Linked DNA regions of Homo sapiens: region 2 is linked to region 1. Evidence: fine-mapped expression QTL. A gene starts in region 1. The other region holds a variant in brackets. All regions are shown on one strand. Distances are between the middles of the regions.

What was found.
Region 2: its variant is fine-mapped to the expression of VSIG10 in whole blood (INTERVAL, PIP above 0.99).

The regions. Positions count from the first base shown.
Region 1 is chr12:118,100,908-118,109,237 of GRCh38, forward strand. VSIG10 (V-set and immunoglobulin domain containing 10) reads right to left here and starts at 3,104. Exons shown (of 9, transcript NM_019086.6): 1 at 2,686-3,104. The coding sequence starts at 2,764. It overlaps LOC124903029 (a long non-coding RNA gene), which reads right to left and starts at 2,675. Exons shown (of 2, transcript XR_007063478.1): 1 at 2,082-2,675; 2 at 698-1,360. RefSeq lists silencers at 2,948-3,197, 8,257-8,330 and an enhancer at 4,839-5,554.
Region 2 is chr12:118,064,433-118,072,762 of GRCh38, forward strand. VSIG10 (V-set and immunoglobulin domain containing 10) reads right to left here. Exons shown (of 9, transcript NM_019086.6): 6 at 6,927-7,037; 7 at 6,620-6,635; 8 at 3,945-4,165; 9 at 1-2,262. The coding sequence ends at 2,207. All of the region lies in intron 1 of LOC124903030 (a long non-coding RNA gene), which reads left to right. Among named protein-coding and RNA genes, the nearest start is that of WSB2, 7.4 kb to the left of the region's middle. The variant C/T (reference allele first, on the strand shown) is at 4,748.

The DNA of each region.
Region 1 (8,330 bases):
TCAGAGTTACAGATGCAACATGTGTTCATGCAACCTGCAGACCTGCCCCTTGCCTAACTCCTTGGCAAAGAAATAAAGGAACAGTGGCTTGGAAAAAAGCCGTGGTGAAACTTTAGTCTTGGAACTTGAGCTAACATTGTTTTCTCCTCCAAGGCATAGAATGACATGATCACAAAAGAAACCATTTGAAGACATTTCACTTCTCCTGGTTTGGCTTACTCCGTTCTTTTTTAAACCACTGTATCTGAAGGTGCCCTTGGAGATCATCTAGTCCAGAGATGTGGCTGCCCTGTGGGCTGGGTTGAAGATGAGATTGAGTCCTGGTTCAGTGGAAAAGAACACAGTCATCGATTTAGTGATGTCTGACATAGACATGGAAGGGGTAGTTCTTGCCTGGCAGTCCTAAACCTCCTCACTTTACTACTGAGAAAATTGAGATTTAGGAAGATTAAGTTATCACTTAAAGTCCCAAGCAAATCACTGGGAGATGTGGGATTGTCACTCAGGTCACGTTACTCTGGTCTCCTGCACCAGACAGGATGCAATGATAAAATATAGTAACAAGTTTAGAAGTCATTCATATGGTGTCCAGAGGGTCCTTCTTGCCCCCCAACCTTAAATGTACAATAGAGAACCGAAGAGGGAGTAATATAAACTCCCTGATGCTGCCCATGTATTATTATTTACAGAGTAGGAGTTATACCCAAACATTTATTTATTTTTTTAAAGCAACTTTTCCCAAGAATAACCTAGGATTTACAATCCGGGGTAGCTAGTGGATGCATATAAGTTGTCTGGCATTGAATGTCAGGAGAAAAATTTTTTTCCCCAAAAACTCCCAACTTAAAAAACAAACACACAACAAAAATACACCAAGCTCAGGAAGCCCCCTGGCATCATACACAAAGGTGAAGCAGGTCTGGGCATCAAAATAGCTGGGCAAAGGCCCAACACGGTGGCTCACACCCATAATCCCAACACTTTGGGAGGCCGAGACAGGAGGATCGCTTGGGTCCAGGAGTTTAAGACCAGCCTGGGCTCAAGCGATTGTAGAGACCGTCTCTACAAAAAAATTTTAGAAATTAGCTAGGCGTGGTGGTGCACGCCTGTAGTCCCAGCTACTTGTAGGCTGAGGTGGGAGGATCAGTGCAGTGATTGCACCACTGCACTCCAGCCTGGGCAACAGAGCGAGAGCCTGGCTCGAAAAAAATAGCTGGCCATAGCAGTGGAGATAGGTTCCCCATGGGGCGGGTGGCAGTCAGCCTGAAAGCCAGGTCATTCCAGCAGGATGACTTCATCCCAGGGTTCTTCTCACTTCCCAGGTTCCTGGTGTTCATCGTGCAGGAAACACTGCAAACAGCTGGGGAGATGGGAATACTTGACAACCACCTTTCACGTCCAGAGATGACCAACTAGGAACTGTCCTCCCCCATCACCCACACCCCAGCACAGTGATTACTCAGCCAAATGCCTGCAGGGCCAGCAGGTAACACCCATGACTGAAGGTGGCGGGGCAAATATTACAACAGGGAGAGGTGGAACAAATTTGGGCTCATATGCCCTAGATAAGAGGATGACCACTGCCCAATTCCAACTGGGAAAGCAGGCCCCGTGTTGCCAGACCTTCAGATTTTTCCAGATAAACTGGAAATCTAGAGATGTTATTGTTTTTAAATGGTTGGTTAAAAAAAAAAAAGCAAAATAAAATTGTATGAGCCTAATAATTAGGAACTCTTGGCACTTGCTGCTAAGAAGCTCCAGCATACTTTACAACCCATCTCCAGAAACGTGCAAGAGGAGACCCGTTGGGTGGAGCAGACCCGGGAACACAAAAAGTAGCGCTCTGCCTGCATCCTGGCAAACTTCACCACCTCCTGGCTCCATCTCCTCTCCCTGCACCCCAGCCTCCTCCCAGCTTGTCACACTCCCAGCACACAGTAGGCATGCACAGTAGGCATGCTGGTGAATTAAATTCAAATATATATAAATAGTTCAATCTTTTTACATTCTACATATTTTTGTAAGCACCCCTCCAATTCTTTTTTCGTAGCAAAGCAGACCATAGATGAAGCATTTCAGACCTTTTGTCAATCATGTCAAGTGTGAGGGGAAGTCTTTTGTAAGTCAGCCAAGTATTTCAAAATAAAAAGCTTTTCCAAAAGTAAAGGCGGAAGACCCCGCTTTGAAGGCGCTGGTCGGCACAGGAAGACTTGCAAAGGTGTGTAGGGAAGTCCACCGGTTACAGGTGTAAGGCGAGTTCAACCTTGGGCAGAGGGAGGAGAAAAATAAAGTGGGAGTCTCGAGTTTGAGCACCAGCGTATCAGTTACTACTAAAACCAGAACGCGAATTTACATCCGACGCTTAAAAAAAAAAATCACTTTCCCGGCACACGTGCCTCTTTACTTTGCCCCCGCACGTCGGCTCGGCTCGGCTCCTCTGCAGCCTCACCGGCTGCCCACCCCAGGAGGCTGGGGGTATCTCGCCCCGCACCGGGCGCCCGGGAAAACTCCTTCCTGCAAAGACGGCCGAGCTGCGAGCAGGAAACCAAGACCCTCCTGGGGCAGCTTCTAGGCTGGGGCCACCACGGATCCGGGCGGAGTCGGAGGGAATTGGGTCTCTCGCTGTCCCCTCCCCACCGCTGACTGGGAAAACTCAACTTTTCCCTCCAGATCGCGGCCCCTTACCTACGGCGACCCAGCCGGCCAGGAGCGCCCCGAGGCAGACGAGGACGCGGGGCTCGGGCGCACTGCCGCCTGCGGCCATCTCGCCCCAGATCCCGGCTCAGGAAACGCAGGCTCGGGCTGGGCTGGACGTGTGTGCCCCAGGGCCCCGGGGCCCGGGGTACCGAGGGCTCCTCCCAGGTCCTCGGAACGGCAGAGTGGCCCCACTTCCTCGGCCCCCAGGAAGGATGCTTGGCTGAGCCGAGTGTCCAGGGCCGGCAGCGGAGCTCGGCTGCAGGCTCGGGTCCCCGCTCCCGAGCGCCCTGGCCGGGGAGGGAGGGCGCACCCCGCCCCCTGCGCCCGCCAGCCTACTCCTGCCGGCGGAAAACAACAGGAGCGGGATCCCTCCCGCCTCCCAGCCAGGCGGGAGCCCAACTTCCTCTACCTTGGCCCGGGAGGAGGGCTTTCTGCCGAGGGCGCGCCGAGCCGGGTCCCGCCGGGCCAGGGGCGGGGCGCGGAGGCTGGGCCCTCCCCAGTCCACTCCGCCCGGGACAGCAGTACCGAGTCGCGGGGACAGCGGGCGGGACGGAGCCCTGCAGCTGCCGCAGGACGCAACCCCCGCCGCTGCCCCGGGCTGCAGAACCCGGAGGAAGCGGTTGCCAAGCTGCAGAACGCAGGACCCCCCTGGCAGTCCCCGCTGAGCGTCTCGAGGGATTCCGGTCTGTGTCCCTGGGCGCAGGGCGGGCGCCAAGGCCGCCATCGCTTCCTTTCCTTACCCTCTGCAAAAGGGAGCCAGAGAAAGATGATCCCCTGACTTTCAGCCAAAGCAGCCACGAGACTCCGGTTCTCCAGTGAACTGGCTGGGACCACACAGTGACAGCGAGAGCCAAGGAGTCCCCAGGACGTGTTTCTCAAGAGTTTTGTTTTTGCTTTTCCCCTTTTAGTTCTCCCACCCCTTACCCAGTCAGATTCCCAGGCTAAGCTCCTCTCTTCCCTGCCATGCCCTCATCCCATTCTGTCCTGGGGAAAATGCGGCTTTGATATCCTCAGGAAGAGCCATCCATAAAACAGCCCTAGGAGAAACTTCCTGTTTCAAATAATAATAATATGGCAGGGCGTGGTGGCTCACACCTGTAATCCCAGCACTTTGGGAGGCCGAGGTGGGCGGATCACAAGGTCAGGAGTTCGAGACCAGCCTGACCAACATGGTGAAACCCTGTCTCTACTAAAAATACAACAATTAGCCGGGCATGATGGCGGGCGCCTGTAATCCCAGCTACTGGGTAGGCTGAGGCAGGAGAATCGCTTGAACCCAGCAGGCGGAGGTTGCAGTGAGCCGATATCACGCCATTGCACTCCAGCCTGGGCGACTGAGCGAGACTCCATCTCAAAATAAATATTAACGTTAAAAAAAAATCATTAGTTCTGTTGTTCAACGGTCCCCTTATTGAAATGCTTCTTCCATGAGGAAATCCTCTTGAAACCACTTTAAAAAAAAAATGTTTCTCCTGGTGAACTGAGCAATGAAGCTGAACAGTTCTGCCTTTTTTACTTTTCTGTTTTTTATTTTTTTGAGACAGGGTGTCACTCCAGTTGCCCAGGCTAGAGTGCAGTAGCACAATCATACCTCGCTGCAGCCTCAAACTACCAGGCTCAAGTGATCCTCCCACCTCAGCCTCCCGAGTAGCTGGGACTACAGGTGTGCAGCACCACGCCCAGCTAATTTTTGTAATTTTAGTAAAGACAGCGTTTCTCCATGTTACCCAGGCTGGTCTCGAACTCCTGACCTCAAGTGATCCACCCGCCTTGGCCTGCCAAAGTGTTGGGATTACAGGTGCGAGCCACCGCGCTCAGCCCTTTTTTATTCTTTGCTCAAATATTTTTAAATAACTGTTCATCAGCCGGGCACGTTGGCTCATGCCTGTAATCCCAGCACTTTGGGAGGCCGAGGCAGGTGGATCACCTGAGGTAAGGAGTTCGAGAGTAGCCTGGCCAACATGGTGAAACTTCGTCTCTACTAAAAATACAAAAATTAGCCCGGTGTGGTGGCAGGCGCCTGTAATCCCAGCTACTTGGGAGGCTGAGGCAGGAGAATCGCTTGAACCCAGGAGGTGGAGGTTGCAGTGAGCCGAGATCGCGCCATTGCACTCCAGCCTGGGGAGAAGAGCGAGACTTCGTCTCAAAAAAAATAAATAAATAAAAAATAAAATAAAATAACTGTTCATCAGATTCTTGACAGGAATTTTGTTTGTTTGTTTTTTGAGACGGAGTCTCGCTCTGTCGCTGCAAGCTCCGCCTCCCAGGCTCATGCCATTCTCCTGCCTCAGCCTCCCAAGTAGCTGGGACTACAGGCTCCTGCCACCACGCCCGGATAATTTTTGTATTTTTAGTGGAGACGGGGTTTCACCGTGTTAGTGTGGGGAAAAGCAAGAGAGATCAGATTGTTACTGTGTCTGTGTAGAAAGAAGTAGACATGGGAGACTCCATTTTGTTATGTACTAAGAAAAATTCTTCTGCCTTGAGATTCTGTGACCTTACCCCCAACCCCGTGCTCTCTGAAACATGTGCTGTGTCAAACTCAGGGTTAAATGGATTAAGGGCGGTGCAAGATGTGCTTTGTTAAACAGATGCTTGAAGGCAGCATGCTCCTTAAGAGTCATCACCACTCCCTAATCTCAAGTACCCAGGGACACAAACACTGCGGAAGGCCGCAGGGACCTCTGCCTAGGAAAGCCAGGTATTGTCCAAGGTTTCTCCCCATGTGATAGTCTGAAATATGGCCTTGTGGGAAGGGAAAGACCTGACTGCCCCCAGCCCGACACCCGTAAAGGGTCTGTGCTGAGGAGGATTAATATAAGAGGAAGGCATGCCTCTTGCAGTTGAGACAAGAGGAAGGCATCTGTCTCCTGCCCCTCCCTGGGCAATGGAATGTCTCGGTATAAAACCCGATTGTACGTTCCATCTACTGAGATAGGGAAAAACCGCCTTAGGGCTGGAGGTGGGACCTGCGGGCAGCAATACTGCTTTGTAAAGCATTGAGATGTTTATGTGTATGCATATCTAAAAGCACAGCACTTAATCCTTTACCTTGTCTATGATGCATAGACCTTTGTTCACGTGTTTGTCTGCTGACCCTCTCCCCACAATTGTCTTGTGACCCTGACACATCCCCCTCTCGGAGAAACACCCACGAATGATCAATAAATACTAAGGGAACTCAGAGGCTGGCGGGATCCTCCATATGCTGAACGCTGGTTCCCCGGGTCCCCTTATTTCTTTCTCTATACTTTGTCTCTGTGTCTTTTTCTTTTCCAAGTCTCTCGTTCCACCTTACGAGAAACACCCACAGGTGTGGAGGGGCAACCCACCCCTTCAGTTAGCCAGGATGGTCTCGATCTCCTGACCTCGTGATCCACCTGCCTCGGCTTCCCAAAGTGCTGGGATTACACGCGTGAGCCACCACACCCGGCCTGGAATTTTTTTTTTTTTTTTTTTTTAGACAGAGTCTCCCTATATCATCCAGGCTGAAGTGCAGTGGTGTAATCATACCTCACTGCAGCCTCAACCTCCTAGGCTTAAGTCAATCCTCCCAGAGTGCTGGAATTACAGGCATGAGCCACTGCACCCAACTTGGTTCTTGCTTTTCATGTTTGACCTTGTGGAGATCCTATACTAACCAGACCTGTTTCCTGTATCCTCAGTACCTGCCAGCTAGTTGCCATTCTAATATACATTTGTTGAGTAAACAAATGAGAATTGATTAGTTTTGATATTGTAGTTCCTCAGCTTTTCTGGCAAACACCTTACATCCTCACCTGCAATAAACAAGCGGTAAATAAAATCAGTAACTGGGCCAGGCAAGGTGGCTCATGCCTATAATCCCAGCACTCAGGAAAGCCAAGGTGGGCAGATCCCTTGAGGTCAGGAGTTCGAGACCAGCCTAGCCAACACAGTGAAACCCCATCTCTACTAAAAATAAAAAATTAGCTGGGCATGGTGGCGCATGCTCGTAATCCCAGCTACTTGAAAGGCTGAGGCAGGAGGGTTGCTGGAACCTGGGAGGTGGAGGTTGTAGTGAGCTGAGATTGTGCCACTGCACTCCAGCCTGGACAACACAGAGAGACACTGCTCAAAATAAATAAATAAATAAATAAATAAATAAATAAATAAATAAATATTTTTAATTAAAAAAATAAAACCAATAACTGGCCAGTTTTCAGCAGAGGGCCTGGAATTCTCCATGGCCTCATGGTGGCTTGCCCAGGGCGGCCTTCCTGACATATTGGCGAGGTCGATGCATAGTTCTAATCTCACTGGACCCTCCCTGCAACCCTTGGACCTAAGGTGCAGTGCCACATACCATCGGTTTTATTTATTTATTTTTGAGATGGAGTCTTGCTCTGTCCCCCAGGCTGGAGTGCAGTGGCATGATTTCCGCTCACTGCAGCCTCCGCCTCCTGGGTTCAAGCCATTCTCCTGCCTCCGTCTCCCAAGTAGCTGGGATTACAGGTTCACGCCACCACACCTGGCTAATTTTTGTATTTTTAGAAGAGATGGGGTTTCACCTTGTTGGCCAGATTGGTCTTGAACTCCTGACCTCAAGTGATCTGCCTGCCTCAGCCTCCCAAAATGCTGGGATTACAGGCGTGAGCCACCACGCCTGGCCGGCCATCCAGTTTTATAAGTGAGCAACCTACAGCTCTGGGAGGTTAACTCTGAGTCACACAGCCGGCTGGCTGGTGGTAAAGCCACGACTGACTGTGTGACTGCAACTCCAGCCCCACAAAGTTGCACATTTGTCACATGTGCAAAGGCTGCCAGGGCTAAGGGGACATGCATCTGAATGCTCTGTGTGTCACTGGATGATCAGACACCAGCCTTCACCTGAGCAGAGCTGGCCTGGAAAACACCACCCTCTTTGTTTTGACTGCAGGGGCTCAAGCCAGCCCTGAGTCAGAAGCTGTGTAAGGAGCTGCCCTGATGTCCACTTGCATTTCAGGTCACTCTGGACAGTAGAAAGTACCCTGCCTAGAACAATGTTCAGTGAGTTGGGAGTTTTGCATGGGGTCCCCAGCAATGTAGGGTCCTTTTAGAGCCCAAGTTTCCCTATCAGCAAAATAGACCTAATATTTATCTCATGGGATGTTGTAAAGATAAACTAGGTTGGGCTTTGAGGCCTAGGCTGGAAGACTTCTTGAGGCCAAGAGCTTGAGACCACCATGGGGCAACATGGCAAGACCCCCATGTCTCAAAAAAAAAAATTTTTTTTTTAATTAGCCAGGGCCAGATGCAGTAGCTCACACCCATAATCTTGGCACTTTGGGAGGCTGAGGCTGGAGGATCACTTGAGCTCAGGAGTTCAAGATCACCCTGAGCAACATAGTGAAACCTTGTCTCTACAGATTTTTTTAACTTAGCCAGGCATAGTGGCACACCTATAGTCCTAGCTACTCAGGAGGCTGAGGTGGGAGGATTGCTTGAGCCCAGGAGGTAGAGGCTGTAGTGAACAATGATCATGCCACTGTACTCCAGCCTGAGCAACAGAGCAAGACCCTGTCTCTGAGAAAATAATAATAAAAATAATTAGGATAAACTGGGTTGACTTGTATGAAGAGACTCAACAAAAATCTAAGGCATGGTTTTGGAGCCTGTCATTTGATATGCCACTG
Region 2 (8,330 bases), 36 kb before region 1:
TAGGGTTTTTTTTTTTTTTCACCTCAACAGTTTTTGTGTTTTCTTTTTTTAATCTTGTTGCCTCTGAGTAGTAGACTCTTCAATTCTGGAATTTGGTTGCCGAAGACTCTAAAGGAGAGACTCACTCAGTAATTCAGTGACTTTAGAAGCAAGCTGAGTATCTCATTCTAAAATGACACTGATTTACACTGTTGAGAATGGTTAAGTACGTGGGGTACCTTGCAGCAAAAGACAAAAAGCAAAAAGCCAGTAGACCTGCAATTCACAGCTATTCCTGAGGGGTGCACATTGCAGCCCACTCTTGAGCTCCCCAGTGTTCTGAGCAGGGGACAGGGCATACTTCTAGTGATTTGCTCAGTTTAATCCCTTCATCCAAGAAAACAGACCTTCCCCAACCACACCTGCAGGGTTACTTCAGACAACCAGCTTCTCATTTTAGAGTCCCAGTTCCTAGAATTGGAGAAAGGAAGTTCCCCTTTAAGCCCTAGGTCCTGCCCACTAGAGCAGATACGCAACATTAAAGAGTGCAAATTCAAGTCAGTTTTTCATATTTAGCAAACATCCATTGCACCCTTATAAGGTCCTCGACTTTAAGAAATTTATATGAAATCGGAAAACTTAAATCTTGAAACTATACAAGGATCTACTGGAAGCATCAGCAGGCTAAACTCATCACATGGTATTTTCATTCCAAATTTAGTGTTATTGATCAGTGTACCCTCAGAATATCCTTAAGAAGCAGGAAGGAAACAAGTTTTCCTCTTCCCACTTCCAAGACTGAGAAAGAGTCCAGATGAGCTGGTTTGCCCAAGCAATTCTTATCACCAGATACTCCGTTATTAAACGTGTCTCCTGCCTTCTTTGAAAGCAACAGGAGAAATGAAGCATAGGAAAGTCTGCAAGCTAACAGTGTATCACCTAGGAGGCTTGTATATAAATATGAAGCTCTGCAAAATGTAGTTATAATGAAAGGCACTTCCTATTACCAGCTCCCTAACTCTTTTTAAAAGAATTCTATCTCCAGGGAAATAAAACTGGTTAAGACAGTGCTCTGATATGCTTAGTTTAGTTCCTTCATCCAAGAAAACAGACCTTCCCCAACCACACCTGCAGGGTTACTTCAGACAACCAGCTTCTCATTTTAGAGTCCCAGTTCTTAGAAATGGAGAAAGGAAGTTCCCCTTTAAGCCCTAGGTCCTGCCCACTAGAGCAGATACGCAACTTTAAAGAGTACAAATTCAAGTCAGATTTTCATATTTAGCAGGTGATCTTACAAAGATATTTTTCAATAAATGGATTATGTTTTTCAATGAATGGATCTTACAAAGATGTTTTTCAATAAATGGAAGGAAAGATGTGTGTGCTTGGTTTTTTTGCTGAGACCCAAATGTTGCCAGTGCAATCCCCCACCAGGGGTACAGGTCAAATCAAAGCTGAATGAAGAGCTCATCTTCGATGTAGCTTTCCAAGCTTTCAGAACGAGACAATAATAAGTGAGCAGCTTCCTCATCTATTTTACAGGTGAGGAAATTGAGGCCAAGAGAGAGGTAAAGAGTCGTGCTCTAGCCCATGAAAGAAGGAAGCAACAGAGCCCAGATTCAACTTCAGGTGTTTCTAACTCCAAAGCCTGAACCAAACTGCCTTCCTCTGATTGGCATTGGTACCTGGAACTTCACCTGTTCCAAGGAGCTGATATTTGCAAGGTGCCGTGGCTGAGGCAGGAGAATCGCTTGAACCTGGGAGGCAGAAGTTGTGGTGAGCCAAGATCGTGCCATTGCACTCCAGCCTGGGCAATAGAGGGAGACTCCGTCTCAAAAAAAAAAAAAAAAAAAAAAAAAAGCGGCAAAAGGCACCAAGACCCAGTGCTTCCCTGACCTCTGTTCCCTCTAAATCAGCATCTATCACAGTAGATCAACCTGGATAAAGCCAGGATTCACAGCAGAAGTGGCACCTCAGACACCAAAGCAGCTTTCCTTCTCAAAGCTTTTAAACATCATTGGGAAAACTTAGAGCAAATCAAACCAATGTTTTTCAATACATGGAAGGAAAGATGTGTGTGCTTGGTTTTGTTTTTTGCTGAGACCCAAACATTGTTAGTGCAAGCCCCCGCCAGGGGTGCAGGTGGAGTCAAAGCTGAATGAAGAGCTCGTCTTCAATGTAGCTCTCCAAGCTTTCAGAGCAAGACAACCATGGACCATCCTCTTCTTCAGACTGGCCTGTCTTCTTCTTGAACAATGTCACTTTGCTCCTCACTGCTGTCATCTGTATGGGGGGAAATAAACCCAATGCTTTGTAATCAGAGTGTGATTCTATTTCCACCGTCAGTCATCAATCATCTCAGTGATTTCTAGTCCTTTCCTGGTGAGCCACAGAATGGGATCTCATGGAGAAGGTAGGGCAGCGTGTGTTTTCCCCTTTTCACCTGTTTTCTACATTCAGAACCTCTAGGCATGCTTGATACCAGTCACCCTTCATGTCCTCAGCTCACGCCCCTCCCCTCACCTGAAACGCCCTCTCTCCTTTCTGCTTATTCCAACTCAGCCGTCTTAACGCCTTGCTTCATGTCTACCTCTTCCATAAAGCTTCCCCTGACCAGCACACCTCTCCGGGCTCTTATCTTTCTCTGAGGTCCTATAAATTTTGGTGCAGTGGCACGATCTCATCTCACTGCAGCCTCAACTTCCCAGGCTCAGGTGATTCTCCCACCTCAGCCTCCCAAGTAGCTGGGGCTACAGGTACATGCCACACACCCAGCTAATTTTTTGTATTCTTAGTAGAGACACGTTTTGCCATGTTCCCAAGGCTAGTCTCGAACTCCTGAGCTCCAGCGATCCACCCACTTTGGCCTCCCAAAGTGCTGGGATTACAGGCATGAGCAACCGTGCCTATAATTTTTAAATGTGTTGTCCATCAGGCAATTAATCAAATATCTTCCTGCAACAGCTCCTCTACTGCTCTCTCAGTGTGTTGGTTCAATCTTGCTCCTGTTTCCATTTCCCCTGCAGGTTTTAGTTTGTTCCCCTAAACTGGCCTTTTTTTTTTTTTTTTTGAGACAGAGTCTCACTCTGTCACCCAGGCTGAAGTGCAGTGGCACGATCTCGGCTCACTGCAGCCTCCGTCTCCCGGGTTCAAGTGATTCTCCTGCCTTGGTCTCCCAAGTAGCTGGGATTACAGGCACCTACCACACCCAGCTGATTTTTGTATTTTTAGTAGAGATGGGGGTCTCACCATGTTGGCCAGGCTGGTCTCAAACTCCTGACCTCAAATGATCCACCTGCCTCAGCCTCCCAAAATGCTGGGATTATAGGCGTGAGCCACCGCACCTGGCCTGAACTGGTCTTGTAAAGCTCCCTGCATGCAGACACTACCAGTCTCTATTTTCTGTTCTCCCACAATGCCAATATTGTGCCTACCCTAGACCAGGACCTTGATAAGTGTTTGTCAATTTGATTTTCATGTTGGTAGTTGATAGTAGTCTCAGGTTCTAGACTAAAGTTTAGCTATCTTCCCCAGCCTTTTAAAAAAACTAAACTCACCCCTTAGAGATTTCCTGCTGGGAAGCTCACCGCAGCAGTTCAGAGGTTTGTGGGCTTTTTTTTTTTTTTTTTTTTTTCTGAGGCAGGTTTCCTACTGCTGCCCAGACTGGAGTGCAGTGGTGTGATCATAGCTCACTGCAGCCTGGACTTCCTACACTCAAGTGATCCTCAGCCTCCCAAGTAGCTGGGAACACAGGTGCACACCACCATGACCGGCTAATTTTTCTTTTTTTTTTTTTTTTTTTTCGTAGAGACAGAGTCTCACCATGTTGCCCAGGCTAGTCTTGAACTTCTGGGCTTAAGTGATCTTCCCACCTTGGCCTCCCAAAGTGCTGGGATTATAGGCGTGAGCCAACGCGCCTTTTTTTGTTTGTTTTCTGTTTGTTTGTTTAAGGAAAAAGAGCTTACCTTGAAGATCCTGGAATCCATTTCCCATCTGTTCTATGTTCCCATTCACCAAGGCGGTCACTCTGTGAATGTGGTCCTGCTTAGGTATTTCTTTTGGCAACTCCTCTCTCTCACGTGCTCCCTCCTGTTCCCCTACTGCAGCATCTTCCTCCTCCTCCTCCTCCTCCTCCTCTTCCTCTTCTGAATCCACCAAAACCATGACATCATCCATGTTTTGTCCCCTAATTTCCAAAGGGGAAAAATAATCAAGAAGATTTCTTATTTTTCCCAACTTCAGCCCTCACTGAATAGGAAACACTAGATTCTTTGCAACCCCATTAGTAATATGGAAAATTACAGCTTGGTGAAGTAATGAGGTGATGGTGTGGTAACCGCAGAGATGCTGCCACAAATTGCTTCAGATGATGGTATCTCATGCTGGTTTATTACTCCCCTGCTCCTTGGGCAGGTGACCATATTGTCCCAGGCATCTACCATTTCATGTCCCCTTACAGCAGGTAGACAAATGTTTTTCCTTTTCTGAAATGCCCTCATTCTGCTCTACTTACCAAAATCTCTCCCCTTCCTCATTTTGGAAGACCCAGGTAAAGTCCTCTCCCTCCTGCTAAAGACCTAAATTAATGACTGCATTTAGAGTCCATGCTATAGTTTATTTATCACCAGCTCACTAGCTTGCCTACCCAGCCAGACTTTGCATTTCAGACTATACATTTCTTTTTTTTTTCTTTTTCGGGATAGAGTCTTGCGCTGTTGCCCAGGCTAGAGTGCAGTGGCGCAATCTTGGCTCACTGCAACCTCCACCT[C/T]CTGGGTGCAAGCAATTCTCCTGCCTCAGCCACCCAAGTAGCTGGGACTACAGGCATGCGCCACCACATCTGGCTAATTTTTGTATTTTTAGTAGAGACATGGTTTCAACATGTTGGCCAGGCTGGTCTCGAATGCCTGGCCTCAAGTGATCCAACCACCTTGGCCTCCCAGAGTGCTGAGATTATAGGCATGAGCCACTGTTGTGCCCGGCCTGGACTGTGCATTTCTTCTTCTTCTTCTTCTTCTTTTTTTTTTTTTTTTTGAGACAGAGTTTCATTCTTGTTGCCCAGGCTGGAGTGCAATGGCACAATCATGGCTCACCGCAACCTCTGCCTCCCAGGTTCAAGCAATTCTCCTGCTTCAACCTCCCAAGCAGCTGGGATTACAGGCATGCGCCACTACATGCGGCTAATTTTTTGTATTTTTAGTAGAGATGGGGTTTCTGCATGTTGGTCAGGCTGGTCTCGAACTCCCGACCTCAGGTGATCCACCCGCCTCGGCCTCCCAAAGTGCTGGGATTACAGGCGTGAGCCACTGCACCCGGCCTGGACTATGCATTTCTTAAGGAAGAAGAATGAACGCCACAGGTCAGTCACCTGCCCGAGGAGCTGTGTTACATTGTCATTTAATCTTCACAAACCCCCTGGTGAAACAAATCAGGAGACTAAGGCTCAGAAAGGGTCAGGGATTTTCTATGGGTACAGGGCTTGGGAATGGCACAGCTGTCATTTGAACCCAGGTCCAATGGTCTCAGTGCCTTTTCCTACTACACCACACTGATGCCTCCAGTGAGAAATAAGCCCAGGGAATGACAGACTTACTAAGAATGGCCCTCCAATACAGGGCAGTAAAGGTAATGTTTTGCTACGAAAGATGGTCCCAGGTCAATAATATCCTGTCATTTTGAAGAGGTAAAGAACTGTTTTTCCATAGGATCATAGAGAAGAGTACTCTGCTCCCACCCAGAATCTCCTTAGGAAATGAAATACACAAGTTCCGTTTGGTTCCTTCGCCCCTACTGGGGTTTCCTTTTGGGAGGGGGTTCTGGGCATGCTCATAGTAGTCTTCCAAAACACTGTAAAACTGGCTGGGTGCAGTGGCTCGTGCCTGTAATCCCGGCACTTTGGGAGGCCGAGGCGGGCAGACCACTTGAGGCCAGGAGTTTGAGACTAGCCTGGGCAACATGGTGAAACCCTGTCTCTACTAAAAATACAAAAATTAGCCAGGCTTGATGGTGCGCACCTGTAATCCCAACTACTCGGAAGGCTGAGGCAGGAGAATGGCCTCAACCTGGGAGGTAGGGATTGCAGTGAGCTGAGACTGCACCACTGCACTCCAGCCTGAGCAAGAGAGAGAGATTCTGTCTCAAAAAAAAAAAAAAAAAGAAAAAAGAAAAAGAAAAAAAAACTTAAGACTATGACTGATTCTTTCTTTTAGCTCTTTTTAGAAAATTAAATAAAACAAATGCATGAATGACTGGCTCAAAATGTACACATTGTCTTTCTGTCTCAATGACAGACCTGCAATGTGTCCAGCCCTGAGGTTTGGCGCTGTAAAAGAACACAGACTTTGGAATTGATTAGACCTGGACCTGAAGGAAGGCACTGCTGCTTTCTTCTGGAATGAGCTTGCAGAAATTACTTCACTGAGCCTCCATCCCCTTATCTGGAAAATGGAGATGTCACCACCACCCTGAGGAGATGATGAAAGGGTTTATAAGAATACCTGATGAAATCCCTAGGCCAGTGTCTAGCACATCGTAGGTCCTCAATGGTAGTTGCTATTATTGTTCTTGTGAAAGGAAGGGAACAAAACAGAAGTGAAGACAGATGCGGGAATGGGTGTTTGGTTTGATTCTAGGGAACACTCACCTGGAAGTGTTTCCTACTGAAGAGAGAAAGGAAAAACCATTAATATCCAGTAACATCCACTTCAACCTGACAGGTTCTTAATCAGGCAAACATTTACTAGAGGAACAAATAAGAAAACTGACTCAATATGACAGGTGATAGGGTGTCCCGGGATGGTACTTAGGTGACTTATTACTGTGTATCTTGACCCAGCAAAGAAGCCCAGAGAACAGAACTTCAGGTGGGAGCAAGGCAGGGGCCATCCTTCCCCATCCCGCACCTTTTCAAAAGTCTGGAAGAGAAGCTAAAGGACCCAGGGAGTCCTTACCTTTCCAGCAGAACACAGGGCTATAATGCAACAGAAGCCCTGAGATAATGGCCAGTCCCAGCAGAAGGAGGCTCACAATGGTTCCCACAATCCCCCCGATATTTAAAGGTTCTGTAAAGACAAATCACACCATTGATTCTTCCATCAGATATGTGTGCAATTAGAACAACACCTCCCTTTCTCTGCGTGGATCCAGTTCTTGTCTTGATTCCTGACCTTGGGTAAGGCTTATGACCTGTCTGTAATGCCAGATAAATATTTTATCACCCAACCTCAGAGAGTTTGTGGGGATCAGATGGAGCAGGGAATGTGAACAAACAATGGAAAGTTAAAATCTCTCTGTCTACCAAACACTGAGACTATTTCTAAGGCCATGGTAAGTAAGAGTGTTGAGAGTTATCAATGCCATGATAAACAGAGTGATCAACGGAACAGAACAGAGAGTCCAGGAACGGGTCCACACGTAAGTATAATTGATATATGACAGGGTCTTGAGCAAAGGAAGCACTATTTAAGAATTGGTACTAGAGCCCGGGCGCAGTGGCGCATGCCTGTAATCCCAGCACTTTGGGAGGCTGAGGAGGGCGGATCACCTGAAGTCGGGAGATCGAGACCAGCCTGACCAACATGTTAAAACCCCGTCTCTACTAAAAATACAAAATTAGCCAGGTGTGGTGGTGCATGTCTGTAATCCCAGCTACTTGGGAGGCTGAGGCAGGAGAATCACTTGAACCCGGGAGGCGGGGGTTGCGGTGAGCCAAGATCGCGCCATTGCACTCCAGCCTGGGCAACAAGAGCGAAATTCCATCTCAAAGAAAGAAAGAGGGCCGGGCGCGGTGGCTCACGCCTGTAATCCCAGCACTTTGGGAGGCCGAGGCAGGCGGATCACGAGGTCAGGAGGTCGAGACCATCCTGGCTAACACAGTGAAACCCCATCTCTACTAAAAATACAAAAAATTAGCCGGGCACAGCGGCGGGCGCCTGCAGTCCCAGCTACTTGGGAGGCTGAGGCAGGAGAATGGCATGAACCCAGGAGGTGGAGCTTGCAGTGAGCCGAGATCGCACCACTGCACTCCAGCCTGGGTGACAGAGCAAGACTCCGTCTCAAAAAAAAAAAAGAAAGAAAGAGGAGGGGAGGGGAGGGAAAGAAAAGAAGGAAGGTAGGAAAGGGAAAAGGGAGAAGAGAAAGGAAAAGGGAGAAGGGAAGGGAAGAAAGAGGCCAGGTGTGGTGGCTCATGCTTGCAATCTCAACACTTTGGGAGGCTGAGATGGGAGGCTCACTTCAGGCCAGGAGTTCAAGACCAACCTGGTCAACACAGTGCGACCTCATCTGTATAAAAAATAAAATAAAAAGAAATAAGTAGAGACATATATAGTAAAACTTAAAATTCAGGACCATGGTTA